Linked DNA regions of Homo sapiens: all the other regions are linked to region 1. Evidence: fine-mapped expression QTL. A gene starts in region 1. Each other region holds a variant in brackets. All regions are shown on one strand. Distances are from middle to middle.

Region 1 (5,875 bases):
TGCCCAGGCTGCTCTTGAACTCCTGGGCTCAAGCAGTCCTCCTGCCTCTGCCCACCAAAATACTAGGATTACAGATGTGAGCCACTGCACCCAGCCAACGGTTTTCCAAAGTGGTTGTACCAAATTCCCCTCTGTCCAACAGAATACAAGAGTCAGAAATGGGTTCAGATCCACGTTAGTGACCTTGGGAAAGTTTTTAAGTCTCCCTCACCCTCAGTGTTTGCATCTGTTCCACGGGGCTGCTGTGAAGACTCAGTGGGAGATTTACCCTGGCAGGAGCTCCATCAGTGAGATGTCACTCTTTCCTGAAAAACTCTGGGGTCTTCACAGATCTATGCAGGTAATGCTCCTGCTCTAAAACTGAATAATCTTCTCAGAGAGGTCCATCAGAACAAATGATAAGTTCAACTCAGCTCCTCTCATATGACTGGTTCTTCCCATCTGAACACATGGGCTCGCTTCTTGTTTCATATTAGTTGCTGTTCACCTTTTATATCTGAAACAATGTCAAGTACAAAAATCACTGATATTTGGTGAGCGCCTTAAAAGCCCCTCCTTCTCCCTGAATCCCACACAATTCTATCTCCTTGCAATTCCAATCACTCTTGGTTTAATCATTTCATCCATATCGTGACAAGTTAGAAAATCTTGAAAGTGCTATGGGGCAATGTATAATAGTTGGTGCATTGGCACAGAACGGGGACTTTATATAAAGACATATCATCTTTCCAGAGTGTTCCAAAAGAACTCGAATATTGATATGTGTGTGTGGGGTGGCGAGGGGGGAAGGGAATTAACTAGGATTTAACTAGCTAAGGCTTGAAAGAATATTTGCCTTTTTCATCCTTTTCCCATTCCTCTCCATTTGGCCTTTCTGCGTATACAAGCTCCATGAAAATTCAATGGTTTCTTGGTACATTGAATTTGCAAGACAGTTTGATGACATCTTATAAGCTTGAAGATATGAATACCTTGTGGACCCAGACATTCCACACCTAAGGCTATTCCTAGAGACATGCATTCTTATCTGCACCAAAGGTACCTGAGGCAGTAATGTTTAATAGCCCCAACTGGAAAAAAAACAGATACCCATCAACAAGATGATGGATAAACAAATTGTGGCATATTCTCTTGATGAAATACTATACAGCAGTGAAAGTGAATGAATCACAGCCATGTGTGACAACAAACAGGTGAATTTTTCTAAAATTCGAAACAGATTAGGATGTATGAATCTTGTTTTTTTTGTTTGTTTGTTTTTGTTTTGTTTTGTTTTGTTTGACAGAGTCTCACTTTGTTGCCCAGGCTGGAGGGCAGTGGTTTGATCTTGGCTCACTGCAACATCCTGGACTCAAGGGATCTTCCCATCTCAGCCTCCTAAGTAGCTGGGACTAGGTTCACATCACCATGCCTGGTTAATTTTTATTTTAAAAAAGGTTTTTGGAGAGACAGGGTCTTGCTATATTGCCCAGGCTTGTCTCAAACCCCTGGCCTCAAGCAATCCTCATGCTCTGCCTCCCAAAGTGCTGGGATTACAGGCGCAGACACCGTGCCCTGCCAGATGAATCTTAAAGACATAATGTTGAACCGAAGAAACAAGAAACTGTAGAATATATACTATATGATTATTCCATTTATATAAAAGCCCAAAAGAAGCAAAGTAAAATTGTATTGGTTAGGAACGCATAATAAGGTAGTCAAACTTTTTTTAAAAAAGCAAGATATGAATACCATAAAGTCAGGTAGCGATTATTGCTGGAATAAGGGGCTGTGTAAGCGTGTTGGCAAAGGGGGTTCTGCAGAGGTGGTGATGTTCCATTTCTAGCCCTAGACTTGATTTCATGAGTGTTCATTTCAGACCAATTTCTTAACTCCGTACCTTTATGTTTTATGCATTTTTCTTTGTGCTTATTGAATTTCACCACACAAAAAGCAGAATGGGAAGTAATCAAAGTGGTTCTGGAGAGACGTGAGTATCAAGCAAACTATACCACCCAGAACCCCTATCCAGCCAACTAGGACCTGGTTAATTATTTCCTCCTGGGAGTTCAGACTTGTCACCTCTGGGGTCTCCAAGGTAGAATAAACCTTTAATTCCAACTTGCAGGAGTCCTTGTGATTTGAAACGTTCACAGAAGTAACCCCAAACCACTCTCTCCACTTTCAAAAATGGTCTTTTGCTAAACAGAGCAAATTTGTTTAGAGACTGACGAATCGCACCTCTAGACACAAATCCCCTTCTCTTTTCTGTCTTTTAAGTTTTTTTCCTGCCTCCATCCTGCCTTCTCCTTGCAAGATGCTGGGGAGCGTCCGGCTGTCTGCAACCGAAATGGAACGGGGTGGAAAACAGGCTTTCCTCCCAGGGGAGGAGGAAGCACCCCAATTCCCCCCTCCCTGCCTCCCAACCATGCGACGCTCCCCTCTCTCCCCCACAAACTCCGCTGAGCCCGGTACCCCCGCGCCTCCACGAGCCTCCACGATTGGTCGCGGGCCCTCATGTGTCGACACTCTGGGTGGGTCCTTCTACTGTTAAACTCATCAATTGCTCCCCTTTTCCGTTTGCTGGCCAGTGGTTCAGACCTTTGCGCCCATTTTTTTTTCCTCTTTACCTTCTTCTACCCGCAACCCTCCACACCAGTCTTATTTTAGCAAAACCTAGAGAAGGAGGAGGTGGAGGGATTTGGAGGGTGGAGAGGCATTGCCGCATCCAGGGGCAGCTATTGAGTGGCTAAGCGGAGGGCGCATACCTCTCTCTCTCTCTCTTTTCCCCCTGTTGGGAATTTTCAGGATTTCACTGCTGCAATTTAACCCCAAGATGAGGCACCATTGAGCGAAACGCTGTGCGCACATACACACTCACACTTCCTCCGGGAGCAGAAGAGGCAGCCGTTGGTGATTCAGGAAGAAAAAAAATTTTTTTTTTTTTTTTTAAACCTGGACCCTGCGGTGTGAAGACTCCTTAGGAACCCTCTGGAGCGTCTTACTCCCCTTCCCTCCTCTTTCCCTTCCCTTTCATCTTCTTTGTTTTTATTTTATTTTATTTTTGGAGCTACAGATCTTTCAGCATTTTTAAGGTCTAGGAACTCCAGCAAAACAGAAGGGCACTTAATTTTTTTTTTTTTTTTTTTTGCCCTCCCCACCCAGACCTGGGTTTCGTCTTTCTTTATTTTTAAATATATATATATTTTTTTATTTTTTATTTTTTATTTTTTTTTAATGGGCCGAGCGCACTCCTTTTGCAAGATGCCAGCCTGACCCGGACCTCGGAGGAATTTGAAGCTTCCACTGCGTCCCGGGGGGGGCGTCCTTTGCAAACCGTTCGCGTCTTAAAGGGGGTGTGCGTTGGGTGGATTTTTTTTTTTTAACTGTCTCTTTTTTTTTTTTTCCGGAGTGGGTGGACTGGGGATTGCCTGGATTCCTTCCTCGGTTATTTTTTGCCTCGCTTCTCTCTCCCCTCCCCCCTCCTCCCCGGGCCCCCGCGCCCCGCCCCCGCACCCTCCTCCCGCCCCTCCTTCTCCGGGGTCAGCCAGGAAGATGTCCCGAGCTGCTATCCCCGGCTCGGCCCGGGCAGCCGCCTTCTGAGCCCCCGACCCGAGGCGCCGAGCCGCCGCCGCCCGATGGGCTGGGCCGTGGAGCGTCTCCGCAGTCGTAGCTCCAGCCGCCGCGCTCCCAGCCCCGGCAGCCTCAGCATCAGCGGCGGCGGCGGCGGCGGCGGCGTCTTCCGCATCGTTCGCCGCAGCGTAACCCGGAGCCCTTTGCTCTTTGCAGAATGGCCCGCTTCGGAGACGAGATGCCGGCCCGCTACGGGGGAGGAGGCTCCGGGGCAGCCGCCGGGGTGGTCGTGGGCAGCGGAGGCGGGCGAGGAGCCGGGGGCAGCCGGCAGGGCGGGCAGCCCGGGGCGCAAAGGATGTACAAGCAGTCAATGGCGCAGAGAGCGCGGACCATGGCACTCTACAACCCCATCCCCGTCCGACAGAACTGCCTCACGGTTAACCGGTCTCTCTTCCTCTTCAGCGAAGACAACGTGGTGAGAAAATACGCCAAAAAGATCACCGAATGGCCATATCCTTTTGCCCGAACCCCAGCAGCAGCTGCGCCTCCCCCTCCTCCCTCCGCCTCCCCTCTTCCAGGCTGGGAGAGAGACCCGGGGGTTGATGGGAGGTGGGGAGGAGGGGGGTCTTCCAGGGGCTGGGAGAGGGGGCACCGGGAGGAGTGTGAAAGAATCTCTCCACCCCGAGCTGGGTTGAGCTACCCTGGAGGCTTGGGAATGGGTTTGTGGGGGGCTGGGGGGTGGGCAGCGGAGAGTGGATCCTTCCCAAGGACCGACTCTAGAATGAGATCTGGGGCCTGGGGTCGTGCAGGAGCCTTGGTGGGGGCTTTCGAGCCAAGTCCGGAGGGTTTGGAGTTCTACGGAGTGAGCTTGGAGCGGGCTCGGGCCTGGGCGCTTCTGGCCAGGGCAGGGGAACTATGGGGGCCTTGGTTGGGTTTTCTTGGCCGTCGCTCACTGGAGTCCACGCAGGGGAAGCTGGACAGCCTCTCCACTACTGCTTTCCCCAAGGTGGGGGGCCGCCGCACTTTTAGGGCAGGGCGCTTGGGGGCTCCCAGGGCTAAGAGCAAGAGGGAGTCCATGTGGCCTTCACACTGAGAAGCCAGCACTGGCCGAAGTGAGTACCCCAGGGTGGGCCGCTGTTCCTATCTGGAGAGGATAGTGATGGGCTGGGGGGCGCTTATGTTTCCCTCATGTGTGCAGGTCCCATTGCCTTTAACCGCTGATTGGGGAACCTCATCATCTTTGGGGGTGTCGAGAAAGAGATCCCACTTGCTTTATCTGGGCCCCTGGCCTGGGAAGACCTGATCTGGACACTTTCAGTAAGAAAGACAGGGCAACAGCAAATGAGGTGGTGGGTCCATTTTAGAGCACCATGTCCAGCTTTTCCTACCCCGAGTAGCCGAGAGGGAACACCAGGAGAATCAGCACCCATGTGGACATCTTAGGTAGGTAAATGCCTTTTAAATTTTTTTTTTTTTAATCAAAGATCCAGAGGAAAAAGGTGAAGCCCACATTTTCTTCTGTGGAGATGCTATCAAAATGCAGATCTTCTGTGTTTCTTTAAATCCCTGCCTGCTTGAAATAAACCTTGAGGAGGGCTTAACATCTATCGAGATGTAGGCAGGCAAGGGTGGGTAATTAGTCGGGCTTTCTAGCAGTTATCTAAGCATGACCCAGATTCCAGGAGGGGGGACACACCCTGCTGCCCAGGCTGGCTGGCCACTGTGCCATGCCCAGATGTGCCGCTTCTCCGCACAGTTCCAACCAGCTGCCCTCTGTGTAAAAATGAACGGGCTGGATGGGTCCCTGGGGCTCAGCGATGAGTCCCCTATCCCTTTTGTATGTGGTTTTGCAGTTATAGACTAAACGGGGCTGGGCCCTGTGTGGTCTCCGGGGGTTGCTGTTTGAGGAGCATGGCGGGTGGTAGAGGGACTCACTTCAGGGGGGTTCAAAATCGAGCCTGGCGCTTGGATCCTGGGTGCTGGGATTGCAACAGAGGGCACTGAGGTTTTGGAGTGTGTGAGTGGTCTACTTTGAGGGTGGGGAAAATTAAGAAGTTCAGCAGAGGTGCTTTTGAGGGGAGCATACCTCTAACTACGATGCCATCTCCGTTGGTGCCCAAAGCAGGTGCCAGGTCTTTGCTTCCTAAGTTTCAGACTCTTAAAGAGGCTGGTTCTTAAGGTTAGCAATTCCTCACCATCCCAGGCCCATTGAAGTGCTCAGGGGTGGCTTGATTACTCTGCCTATCAACAGAGTGAGGAGTGGGAGTGCCTTGCAGGAGGACAGGGTATTCATGGGTGCACACCCAGTTAGCTCCAGGAGTGA
Region 2 (5,875 bases), 300 kb after region 1:
GGCATCTAGGAAAAGATCAGTCCAACGAGAAGTCAAAGTTTTGAGGTCGAGTGCGGTGTCTGACTCTTGTAATCTCAACACTTTGGGAGAATCACTTGAGGCCAGTAGTTCAAGACCAGCCTGGGCAACATAGCAAGACGCTGTCTCTAAAAAAAAAAGTTTGTTTTTTTTAAGGCTGGGTACAGAGGCTCACGCCTGTAATCCCAGCACTTTGGGAGGCCAAGGTGAGCAGATCACCAAGTCAGGAGTTTGAGACCAGCCTGGCCAACATAGTGAAACCCTGTCTCTACTAAAAATAAAAAAATTAGCCAGGTGTGGTGGTGCATGCCTATATTCCCAGATACTTGGCAGGCTGAGGCAGGAAAATCGCTTGAACCTGGGAGGCAGAGGTTGCAGTGAGCTGAGATTGCGTCACTGCACTGCAGCCTGGGCGACAGAGTGAGACTACGTCTCAAAAAAAAAAAAAAAAAAAAATGGAATGGAAGGGAGGGAGGGAGGGGTTTAACTTTCTAACCAGGCAATCTGGCAACCACCACAGGCTTCTAAACAAGCTGCCCATCCATTGCAGAGCTGGCCTCTGGTCCCCCTCCCATGGTGCTGGGGTTGAGTGTGTCCAGGAGCCACTGGAGTAAGCCAGGGTTTGTGCAATTCCCTCTGCTGTCAATGAGGCTGCAGCCATCTGTCCTCCCAGGAATGAAGTTCACTACCGAAGCCCCCCATGAGCCCTGAACTCAAAGGCCAAGTCTATGCCCGAGTGCCAAGAGGTAGACCCAAGGCCTCCACAGTGCACATCATCAGGCTAGAGTGTTAGTTGCCCAGGAGACACAGGGTGGGAAGATCAGGGGATGAGGAAGAGGGGCGGAGCTTGGCCTAGTCCCCAGTCTCACATACTCTCAGGCCATTGCTTGAGCCTCATCACCTGGAAGGTTGGAAGGGCATGATTGTCATAGAAATGCCCTGAGGTGACCGGGCGCGGTGGCTCAAGCCTGTAATCCCAGCACTTTGGGAGGCCGAGGCGGGCAGATCATGAGGTCAGGAGATCAAGACCATCCTGGCTAACACGGTGAAACCCCGTCTCTGCTAAAAATACAAAAAATCAGCCGGGCATAGTGGCAGGCGCCTGTAGTCCCAGCTACTCAGGAGGCTGAGGCAGGAGAATGGCGTGAACCCGGGAGGCAGAGCCTGCAGTGAGCCGAGATCATGCCACTGCACTCCAGCCTGGGCAACAGAGCGAGACTCAAGAAAAAAAAGAAAAAGAAATGCCCTGAGGTGCAAAAGCCCAGGCATTGGCCGGGCGCGGTGTCTCACGCCTGTAACCCCAGCACTTTGGGAGGCCAAGGTGGGTGGACTGCTTGAGCTCAGGAGTTCGAGACCAGCCTGGGCAACATGGCAAGACCTTGTCTCTACTAAAAATAAAAAAAAGCAGAGTGTAGTGGTACATGCCTGTGGTCCCAGCTACTCGAGAGGCTGAGGCAGGAGGATCACTTGAGCCCAGGAGTTCGAGACCAGCCTGGGCAACATGGTGAAACCCCATTCCTACAAAAAATACAAAAATTGGCCAGGCGTGGTGGCTCACGCCTGTAATCCCAGCACTTTGGGAGGCCGAGGTGGGCGGATCACCTGAGGTCGGGAGTTCGAGAACAGCCTGGCCAACATGGAAAAACCCCATCTCTACTAAAAATGCAAAATTAGCCGGGCGTAGTGGCGCATGCCTATAATCCCAGCTACTCGGGAGGCTGAGGCAGGAGAATCACTTGAACCTGGGAGGTGGAGGTTGCAGTGAGCCGAGATCATGCCATTGCGCTCCAGCCTGGGCAACAAAAGCGAAACTCCGTCTCAAAAAATAAATAAATAAATAATACAAAAGTTAGCCCGGCATGGCGGTGCATGCCTGTGGTCTCAGCTACTTGGGAGGCTGAGGTAGGAGGATCACTTGAACCCAGGAGGTCAAGGCATCAGTGACCTATGATCACACCACTGCACTCCAGCCTGGGTGACAGAGCAAAACCCTGTTCCAAAAAAAAAAGAGAGAGAGGGAGACAGAGAGTTATTTTAGGAAGGTTTGTTTATGTAGACTCATCTTGGGACTGACTATCTGCAGTGATAGGAGTCATTCTGCTCTCCCTGGTAAGGAGACGGGGGGATACCTCCACAAAGGAAAATTTATGTCACCTTTTTTTTTGAAACGGAGTCGCACTCTGTTGCCCAGGCTGGAGTGCAGTGGTGCAATCTTGGCTCACTGCAAGCTCTGCCTCCTGGGATCACGCCATTCTCCTGCCTCAGCCTCCTGAGTAGCTGGAACTATAGGTGCCCGCCACCATGCCCAGCTAATTTTTTTGTATTTTTAGTAGAGACAGGGTTTCACCGTGTTAGCCAGGATGGTCTTGATCTCCTGACCTTGTGATCTGCCCGCCTCGGCCTCCCAAAGTGCTGGGATTACAGGAGTGAGCCACCACGCCCAGCCTTATGTCACCTTCTTAAAGAGAAGTTTATGCCTGGCTTTGAGGCAGAAAAGTAGAGAGCAGAGAATTCTTTCTGCCTCTACTGATTTTTTTTTTTTTTTTTTTTTTTTGAGACAGAGTCTCGCTCTGTTGCCCAGGCTGGATTGTAGTGTCAGGATCTCGACTCACTGCAACCTCCACCTCCCAGGTTCAAGGGATTCTTGTGCCTCAGCCTCCCGAGTAGCTGGGACTATAGGTTCCCACCACCATGCCCAGCTAATTTTTTATATTTTCAGTAGAGACAAGGTTTCACCATATTGGCCAGGATGGTCTCCAACTCCTGACCTCAGGTGATCCACCCACCTCGGCCTCCCAAAGTGCTGGGATTATAGGCGTCAGCCACCGCGCCTGGCCATCTACTGATTTTCTATTGCATTCAGCTCAGAATAATTCTTATGCTAAAGTTGATAGATAGATACATAGATAGATACATAGATAGATAGATAGATAGATAGATAGATAGATAGATAGATAATAGATTGTTTGTTTGTTTGTTTGAGACAGGGTCTTGCTCTGTCACCCAGGCTGGAGGGCAGTGGTGCAATCTCGGCTCACTGCAACCTCAGCCTCGCAGCCTCGAGCCATCCTCCCACCTCAGCCTCCCAAGTAGCTGGGACCACAGGTGGATGCCACCATATGCCTGGTGAATTTTTTGTATTTTTGGTAGAGATGGAGTTTTGCCATGTTGCCCAGGCTGGTCTCGAACTCCCGAGCTCAAATGATCCACTCACCTCCACCTCCCAGAGTGCTGGATTACAGGCGTGAGTCACTGTGCCCGGTCTCTAAGTGATATATTTTTAAGAGTAACATATCCTGATCCCCTTCAGCTGCCGTCAGAGAACTGGGGTGGGGACGTGGAAGGGTGACATCGCTCTGCTGGAGGACTTGTGAGAGAGCC[C/A]AGACTGTGCAGGGGGCCCAGCCAGAGCACCCCAGCTTCCAGGACTGGAACCCCAGCCTCAGGAACTCAGGGCAACGCTGGGGTGAAGGCTCAACTTTAGGGAAATACCCGGAAGCAGAGAGGATGGGGTCAGGACACCCAGCCAGGAAGCTGCATTTATTTCACTGTGCATTGGAGAAAGCCCCACCAGCCCAGCAAAGCCAGTCTCTTACAGATACCAATGATTAAAGTGATAAAACAGGGCCGGGCACGGTGGCTCACGCCTGTAATCCCAGCACTTTGGAAGCCTGAGGCAGGCAGATCATGGAGGTCAGGAGTTTGAGAACAGCCTGGCCAACATGGCAAAACCCCGTCTCTACTGTACAAAAATTAGACAGGGGAGGTGGCGTGCACCTGTAGTCCCAGCTACTCAGGAGGCCAAGGCAGGAGAATCACTTGAACCCTGGAGGTTGCAGTGAGCCAAGATCACACCACTGCACTCCAGCCTGGGCGATGGAGAGAGGCTCTGTCTCAAAAAAATAAATAAATTTAAAAAACTGGGCCAGGCACAGAGGCTCACGCCTATAATCCCAGCACTTTGGAAGGCCGAGGCGAGCAGATCACCTGAGGTCGGGAGTTCCAGACCAGCCTGACCAACGTGGAGAAACCCCATCTCTACTAAAAATACAAAGTTAGCTGGGTGTGGTGGTGCATGCCTGTAATCCCAGCTACTCGGGAGGCTGAGGCAGGACAATCGCTTGAACCCGGGAGGCGGAGGTTGCAGTGAGCCGAGATCGCACCACTGTACTCCAGCCTGGGTGACGGAGCAAGGCTCTTTCTCAAAAAAAAAATTTAAAAGAAGTGATAAAACAGGCCAGGTGCAGTGGCTCATGCCTATAATCCAATATTTTGGGAGGCTGAGGTGGGAGGATCACCTGAGCCCAGGAGGTTGAAGCTTCAGTGAGCTGTCATCACACCACTGTACTCCAGCCTGGGTGACAGAGCGAAACCCTATCTCAAAAAAAAAAAAAAAGATAAAATGTTTCAAGTTAAAAAAAAAAAAAAAGTGGCCAGGCGCAGTGGCTGATGCCTGTAATCCCAGCACTTTGGGAGGCCGAGGCAGGTAGATCACAAGGTCAGGAGTTCGAGACCAGCCTAGCCAACATGGTGAAACCCCGTCTCTACTAAAAAATACAGAAATTAGCCAGGTGTGGCAGCGGGTGCCTGTAATCCCACCTACTCAGGAGACTGAGGCAGGAGAATCGCTTGAACACGGGAGGCAGAGGTTGCAGTGAGACAAGATTGCACCACTGCACTCCAGCCTGGGTGACAGAGCCTCCAGTCTGGGAGATAGAGCAAGGCATCATCTCAAAAAAAAAAAAAAAAAAAAAAAATTAAAGAAGTCAGGTGTGGTAGCAAGCACCTGTAGTCCCAGCTAAGGCTAAGGCGAGAGGATCACTTGAGCCCAGGAGTTTGAGAGCAGACTGGGCAACCTAGCAAGAACCCATCTCAAAAAAAAATTAAAGAAATAGGAGTTGGGCCAGGCATGGTGGCTCATGCCTGTAATCCCAGCACTTCGGGAGGCCGAGGTGGGTGCATCACCTGAGGTCAGGAGTTCAAGACCAGCCTGGACAACATGATGAAACCCCATCTCTACTAAAAATACAAAAATCAGCCAGGTGTGGTAGCGGGCACCTGTAATCCCAGCTACTCAGGAGGCTGAGGCAGGAGAATTGGCTTGAACCTGGGAAGCGGAGGTCGTAGTGAGCCGAGATCATGCCACTGCACTCCAGCCTGGGAGACAGAGGGAAACTCCGTCTCAAAAAAATAAAATAAAATAAAAAATTAAAGAAATAGGAGTTGTATTAGTCTCTTCCTGTGGCTGCTGTAATAAATTATCACAGGCTGGGTGGCTTACAATAGCAGACATTTGGCTGGGCACAGTGGTTTACACACATAATCCCAGCACTCTGGGAGGCCGAGGCAGGCGGATCACCTGAGATCAGGAGTTCAAGACCAGCATGGCCAACATGGAGAAACCCCTTCTCTACTAAAAATACAAAAATAAATAAATAAATAACCAGGCATTGTGGCAGACACCTGTAGTCCCAGCTACTCAGGAGGCTGAGACAAGAGAATCGCTTGAACCTGGGAGACGGAGGCTGCAGTGAGCCAAGATCGCATCATCGCCCTCCAGCCTGGGCAACAAGAGCGAACCTCTGTCTCAAAAAAAAAAAAAGTCAGGGCTGGGCGTGGTGGCTCAAGCCTGTAATCCCAGCACTCTAGGAGGCCGAGGCAGGTGGATCACAAGGTCAGCAGTTCGAGACCAGCCTGACCAACATGGTGAAACCCCGTCTCTACTAAAAATACAAAAAAAAATACCTGAGCATGGTGGTGGGCGCCTGTAATCCCAGTGACTTGGGAGGCTGAGGCAGGAGAATCACTTGAGACTGGAAGGTGGAGGTTGCAGTGAGCCAACATTGCGCCACTGCACACT
Region 3 (5,875 bases), 210 kb after region 1:
AGTAGCTTGTTTAATCATCACCATGACCACATGAGGAACACAGGTAAATATTAAAATCCTGTCTTAGTCTGCTCAGGCAGCCATAACAAAATACCACACACTGGGTGGCTTATACAGGAAACATTTATTCTCTCATAGTTCTGGAGGCCGGGAAGTCCAAGATCAAAGTGTTAGCAGGGTTAGTTAGTTCCTGGTGAGGGCCCTCTTCCTAGCTTGCAGATAGCCACCTTCTTGCTGTGTCCTCATATGTCAAAGAGAGAGAGAGAGAGTTGTGATGTTTCTTCCTGTTCTTTTTTTTTTTTTTTTTTTGAGACAAAAATCTCAAAAAAAAATCTATTTTTTTTTTAGGCAAATCACATTTTTTTGTCACCCAGCCTGGAGTGCAGTGGCACAATCATAGCTCACTGCAGCCTCAAACTCCTAGGTTCAAACGATCCTCCCACCTCAGCCCCTTGAGTAGCTGGGACTACAGATGGGCACCAGCTAATTTTTTTAAATTTTTTGTAAAGATGGGGTCTTGCTATATTGCCCAGGCTAATCTTGAACTCCTGGGCTCAAGTGATCCTCCCACCTTGGCCTCCCAAAGTGCTGGGATTACAGGCATGAGCCATGGCATGCGGTCTCTTCCTGTTCTTATAAGGGCACTAATACCATCATGAAGTCCCCCATGACCTCATCTAACCCTAGTTACCTCTTAAAGGCCCCATCTCCAAATACCATCCCATCATAGGTTAGGGCTTCAACTCATGAATTTGGAGGCGGGCACAATTTAGTCCATAACAAATCCCCTTAATCACATCAAGTAAGACAGAGTTACAGGAGGGTCTGTGACTCCTCCAGGGTCCCATTTTCCTAGAAGCCAGGCTAAGAGCCCCACGACGCAGGAACGGCCCTTTCTACTCGCAAACAAAGAGAAAAGCCAAGGAGAAGCCAACACGGAGTCTGGCTCTGCAAACCGGGCAGGATTGTTAAAGACCTCCTGGGCTCGGGGATGGGGTGGGCGGATTCCGGCTCCACAGCTGCATCTCCAAGGGGCCCGTGGCTGAGAGGGGGGTTGGCTGTGTGTTTCTTCCTCCCCTTTCAGATCCTGACGGGCGAAGACTGGAACGAGGTCATGTACGACGGGATCAAGTCTCAGGGGGGCGTGCAGGGCGGCATGGTGTTCTCCATCTATTTCATTGTACTGACGCTCTTTGGGAACTGTATCCTTCATGGAGAGAGAGAAGGGGACAGGCCTGGACCTCTGGCAGAGGAGAGGTTGCAGGGGCTCAAGGGAGGGTACTGAGAGACCCAGATACCCAGGGCCCAAGTGGTGTCCCACCAGTGGTTGCTTTTCCTGACTCAGACATTTGCAGACACCCTCCTGAATGTGTTCTTGGCCATCGCTGTGGACAATCTGGCCAACGCCCAGGAGCTCACCAAGGTGGAGGCGGTGGGAGAATGTTTCTCTGGCAAAGTTACCACCTGCCCATGGCAGATCAGGACGGGGGTGGGGGTGGGGGTGGGGGTGGGGGTGGGGGCATGGGAACAGGGTTAGAACTTTTGCCGGGGATGCACCATGCAAAGAGAAGGCGCCTCTCCCCCCACTCCCAGAAACAGACTGTCCCTCATCAAGCAAATTCTACAGCCAAGAGGGTGGGAAGGGGGAAGGCAGTGAGGTCGCTGCAGGAAACGGATGGCAAACTCAACCAAAAGGCCGTTTACAGGGAGTAAGCAGGGTTTCCAAGGAATGGTGTAGCCCCCAGGCTAGTGGATGGGAGAGGGAGTGCTGTTATGGGGACCCAGTCAGAGCTGGGGCCAAGGAAAAAGGGCTGCCACCAGCCCTGGGACCTTAGAGAACCCAGAACCATGGCAAGGCACAGATGGAGTGGCCAATAAATGTCCCCACCTTCTCTCTTCCTCTGGCTTCCCGCTGGAGCCTCCCCTTAGCCAAACGCAGCATGTTAAGAGCTAGCCTCCGTCCAGCCTAAGCCTCTCCCCAAGGACCCTATTAAGTTAAGATTACATGTAACAGGTACAGGGTCTTCCTCTCAGCCCTGGGGTCTCCCTCAGCATTGCAGCCCCACCTCCAGTGCCTCGAGGTATTCAGGACATGTTTGTGAAATTGAACCAAACCAAGCAGACGTTGCCAACGCTCCATCTGCCGGCCCTGGCAGGAGGGAGAGAGAGTTTCCCGGCCCCAGCTCCCAGTGGAGGGAAGCGGAAGTCTCTGCCATCCCAAGCACACGGCCACAAGCCTGGCCACTGTGGAGCTGGCTGGCATGGCTGAGCCGAGGGCTGATCCAGCCATGAGCTCATCCAAGTTCCAAGAGTCCATCCTTAGGGGCTGGTGCAGGAGGGTAGCAGAAGGGGAGGGAGAAAGGCCAGTTCGTTTATCTCCTGGGAGGTGTGGACATTCCTCTCCAGATCCACATTCTTTCTTTCATTGATCCTACAAGCATTTCTTGGTCATTTAATACGTGTTTTTAATCCTATTCAGTCCTCATGGAAACCTTAGGAGCCAAGTTCTCTGAGCCCCATTTTACAGATTTCATCATTCAGTAAGCACTTAATGAGCACCTACTGTGTGACCAAGGCCCTGGTCTAGGACTTAGGGATTAAGCAGTGAACAAAAAAAGGCAAAAATCCCTGCCTCCGTGGAGCAGGGATTCAAGAGGGGAGACAGACAAGAAACAAGATAAATTTGTAAACATACGTAGCTTGTCAGTTGGTGATAAACACAACAGAGAAAAATTCAGTAGGGAAAGTCAGGGAGAGTTGGAATTTTAGATGAGATGTGTGTCGCACAGAGAGGTTGAGAGACTTGCCCAAGGCCACACAGCAGTAAGTTGTGGAGCTGGGATTTGAACCCAGGCCGTCTGGGTCTGCAGCTTGTGCTCTTAACTGCTGTGTACCAGTTGCTTGAATTTGGGCATGTTTTATGCTCACTTGGGAACCTGTGGGAAATGCAGATTCCAGGGCCCAGCACTGGTTCTATAGATTATTTGGGGAGCCTGAGGATCTGCATTTTAGGTGTTTCTGAGGCAGATGGTCCAGAGACCTAGCTCTGAAAAATGCTGGGAATGGTGCCAGGAGGGGTGGGGGTGGCCCTATGAGAGCAGGGTGGCCAGCCAGATCCCATCTCCATGTTGTCTCTGACAGTGTCCTGATCTGACCATTTCCAAGGTGGTAAGGTTGCTCCCCGTTCCAGTGATTCGGAGCACAGCGGGAGAGCTGCCTGCAATGGCATGACTTTTCTTATGGGCGGGTTCATTTCTGGCCATTTCTTTCTCGTTGCCTTTTCTTTGCTTTTTCTTTGTTGGCTTTTCTGTTTTACGAATGAG[G/A]CCCTGCATGAAGGCTGAAGAAGGATTTAAAGTCCAAAAACGTCTTTTTCTGTATGTATTTTTAAAACCTCTTCCCCCATTCTCCTCCTCTCTGAACCTAACCACCAGTGAGCAGCAGCACCCTGGGCAGTTGGCTGTAGCCCAAGTGCCCTGCTCTCCTCTCCCCACCGCCTTCCTGTCATGGGGGCTGGGAATATAAATTCCTCTCCTCATTCTCCTTCTGGGGGCTGTTGACAGTGCATGGCAGGGGCCATCGGATGCCAGGCTCTTCTGTGTGTGAGGGTAGTTGGTGTTTTTTGAAAGTTGGTTCAGAGAGTTCACATGGCTCAGAAAGCCTAGTGAGAGGAAAATCTTTGCACTGCTTTCCAGCTCATTAAGACAGGATGCAGGGGCCAGGCATGGTGGCACATGCCTGGAATCCCAGCACTTTGGGAGGCCGAAATGGGAGGATCATTTGAGGCCAGAAGTTCAAGACCAGCCTGGGCAACATAGTGAGACCCTGTCTCTACAAAAAAAAAAAAAAAATTAAATGTATACAGGCATAGTGGCATGCACCTGTAGTCCCAGTTGCTTGGGAGGCTGAGGTGGGAGGATTGCTTGAGCCCAGGAGTTCAAGGTTACAGTGAGCTATGATTGTGCCACTGCACTCCAGGCTGGGCAACCAAGGGAGACTCTGTCTCTGAAAACAAACAAAAGAAAAAAAAATAGGCTGCAGGAAAGTCTTCATTGTAGGAAGAGAAGGGACATTTTTATTTTTTGTTATCTGGCTGTGTGTTAAAATAGGCTTCATAATGAGTTAGATGTCAAACTTATACACAGAGGGGATAGCAATACACTTAACCAATAGCAGGTACCCATTCCAATTGGGGAGCCTTGGTTCTGATTGGTCGAAATATTTCAAATGTTGCCCCTGGTCAGCAACAGGGTCAGAAGTGAGTCCCCAAGGCCTAGTTCATGTTTTGTGAACAAAGATTCCACGTGCCTTTTAGGACGAGCAAGAGGAAGAAGAAGCAGCGAACCAGAAACTTGCCCTACAGAAAGCCAAGGAGGTGGCAGAAGTGAGTCCTCTGTCCGCGGCCAACATGTCTATAGCTGTGTAAGTGCCCCTAATCCCTGGGATGCTACCCTGGCTCCTGAACGTCCACACTATCCCAGGCACAGATTTGGGAAGCAGTGGGGGTGGTCCTTGACAGAACTGAGCTTTAGGAAGAGACACTTCTTGTCCTTCCACCCACTTTCACTCAATAAATATTTGGTTAGCAGCTGTTATGTACCCAGCACTGTTCTAACTTCTGGGGATACAGCATTAACAAGGAGGAAAAAAAAAATCCCACCTGTGTGTAGCCATTCTAGCAAGGGAAGGAGTCAATAAATTAGATAAATAAGTAAATTATATATTGTGTTAGAAGGCGATGGAACTACAGAGAAAGTAGGGGAGGGAAATAGCAAATGCTGGGAGTGAAGAGAGTTGTGATTTTAAACGAAGTTGTCAGGGAAGGCATCACCTAGAATAGGGGTCCCCAGTCCCGGGGCTGTGGACTGGTACCAGGCCGAGGCCTATTAGGAACGGGGCTGCACAGCAGGAGGTGAACAGTGAGCAAGCAAGCATTACCGCCTGAGCTCCACCTGCCGTCAGATCAGCAGGCAGCATTAGATTCTCATAGGAACACAAACACTATTGTGAACGGTGCATCTGAGGGATCTAGGTTGCGTGCTCCTTTTAAGAATCGAATGCCTGATGATCTCAGGTGAAACAGTTTCATCCCAAAACCACCCCCCACACCTAGGTCTGTGGAAAAACTGTCTTCCACAAAACTGGCCCCTGGTGCCAAAAAGGTTGGGGACTGCTCACCTAGAAGGTTACATGGCCTGAAGGAGGTGAGGGAGGAGCCACTGGGGGGCCTGGGGAAGGGCATCCCAGGCAGAGGGAACAGCATAGGCAATGGCCCTGAGGCAGGAACATGCCTGATGTGAAGGAGGCCTGTGTGACTAGAATCGAATAGTAAGTGTGAGGAGGTGAAGGCAAGGAGGTGACAAGCAGATTACACAGGGCCTTCTGGGTCAGGGGGGAGGACTTGGGCTTTTGCCCCTAGCCAGGTGGGAGCCATGGAGGGTTCTTGAGCAGAGGAGGCTGGGACCTGACTCAGATGCTCACAGACTCCTAGCATTCAGTGGGGAGTAGAGGGTGGAGAGCAGGAGTGGGAGGCTGAGATGTGGGTTGGTTCGCCTGGGTCATCCATCCAAGCTACAGTGCCTAGCAATGCTCTAAGTCCTGTGACCATGCCACTGCAGGAAAGAGCAACAGAAGAATCAAAAGCCAGCCAAGTCCGTGTGGGAGCAGCGGACCAGTGAGATGCGAAAGCAGAACTTGCTGGCCAGCCGGGAGGCCCTGTATAACGAAATGGACCCGGACGAGCGCTGGAAGGCTGCCTACACGCGGCACCTGCGGCCAGACATGAAGACGCACTTGGACCGGCCGCTGGTGGTGGACCCGCAGGAGAACCGCAACAACAACACCAACAAGAGCCGGGCGGCCGAGCCCACCGTGGACC

What was found. PIP is the estimated chance that this variant, and not a neighbour inherited with it, causes the effect.
Region 2: its variant is fine-mapped to the expression of CACNA1A in whole blood (TOPMed, PIP above 0.99).
Region 3: its variant is fine-mapped to the expression of CACNA1A in tibial nerve (GTEx, PIP above 0.99).

Annotation. Positions count from the first base shown.
Region 1 is chr19:13,504,119-13,509,993 of GRCh38, reverse strand. It overlaps CACNA1A (calcium voltage-gated channel subunit alpha1 A), which reads left to right and starts at 3,515. Exons shown (of 47, transcript NM_001127222.2): 1 at 3,515-4,062. The coding sequence starts at 3,770. RefSeq lists an enhancer at 1,947-2,473.
Region 2 is chr19:13,199,381-13,205,255 of GRCh38, reverse strand. No RefSeq gene overlaps it. Among named protein-coding and RNA genes, the nearest start is that of IER2, 52 kb to the right of the region's middle. RefSeq lists a silencer at 1,985-2,185. The variant C/A (reference allele first, on the strand shown) is at 3,400.
Region 3 is chr19:13,299,094-13,304,968 of GRCh38, reverse strand. It overlaps CACNA1A (calcium voltage-gated channel subunit alpha1 A), which reads left to right. Exons shown (of 47, transcript NM_001127222.2): 16 at 1,085-1,202; 17 at 1,356-1,423; 18 at 4,313-4,419; 19 at 5,616-5,875. Among named protein-coding and RNA genes, the nearest start is that of IER2, 150 kb to the right of the region's middle. The variant G/A (reference allele first, on the strand shown) is at 3,324.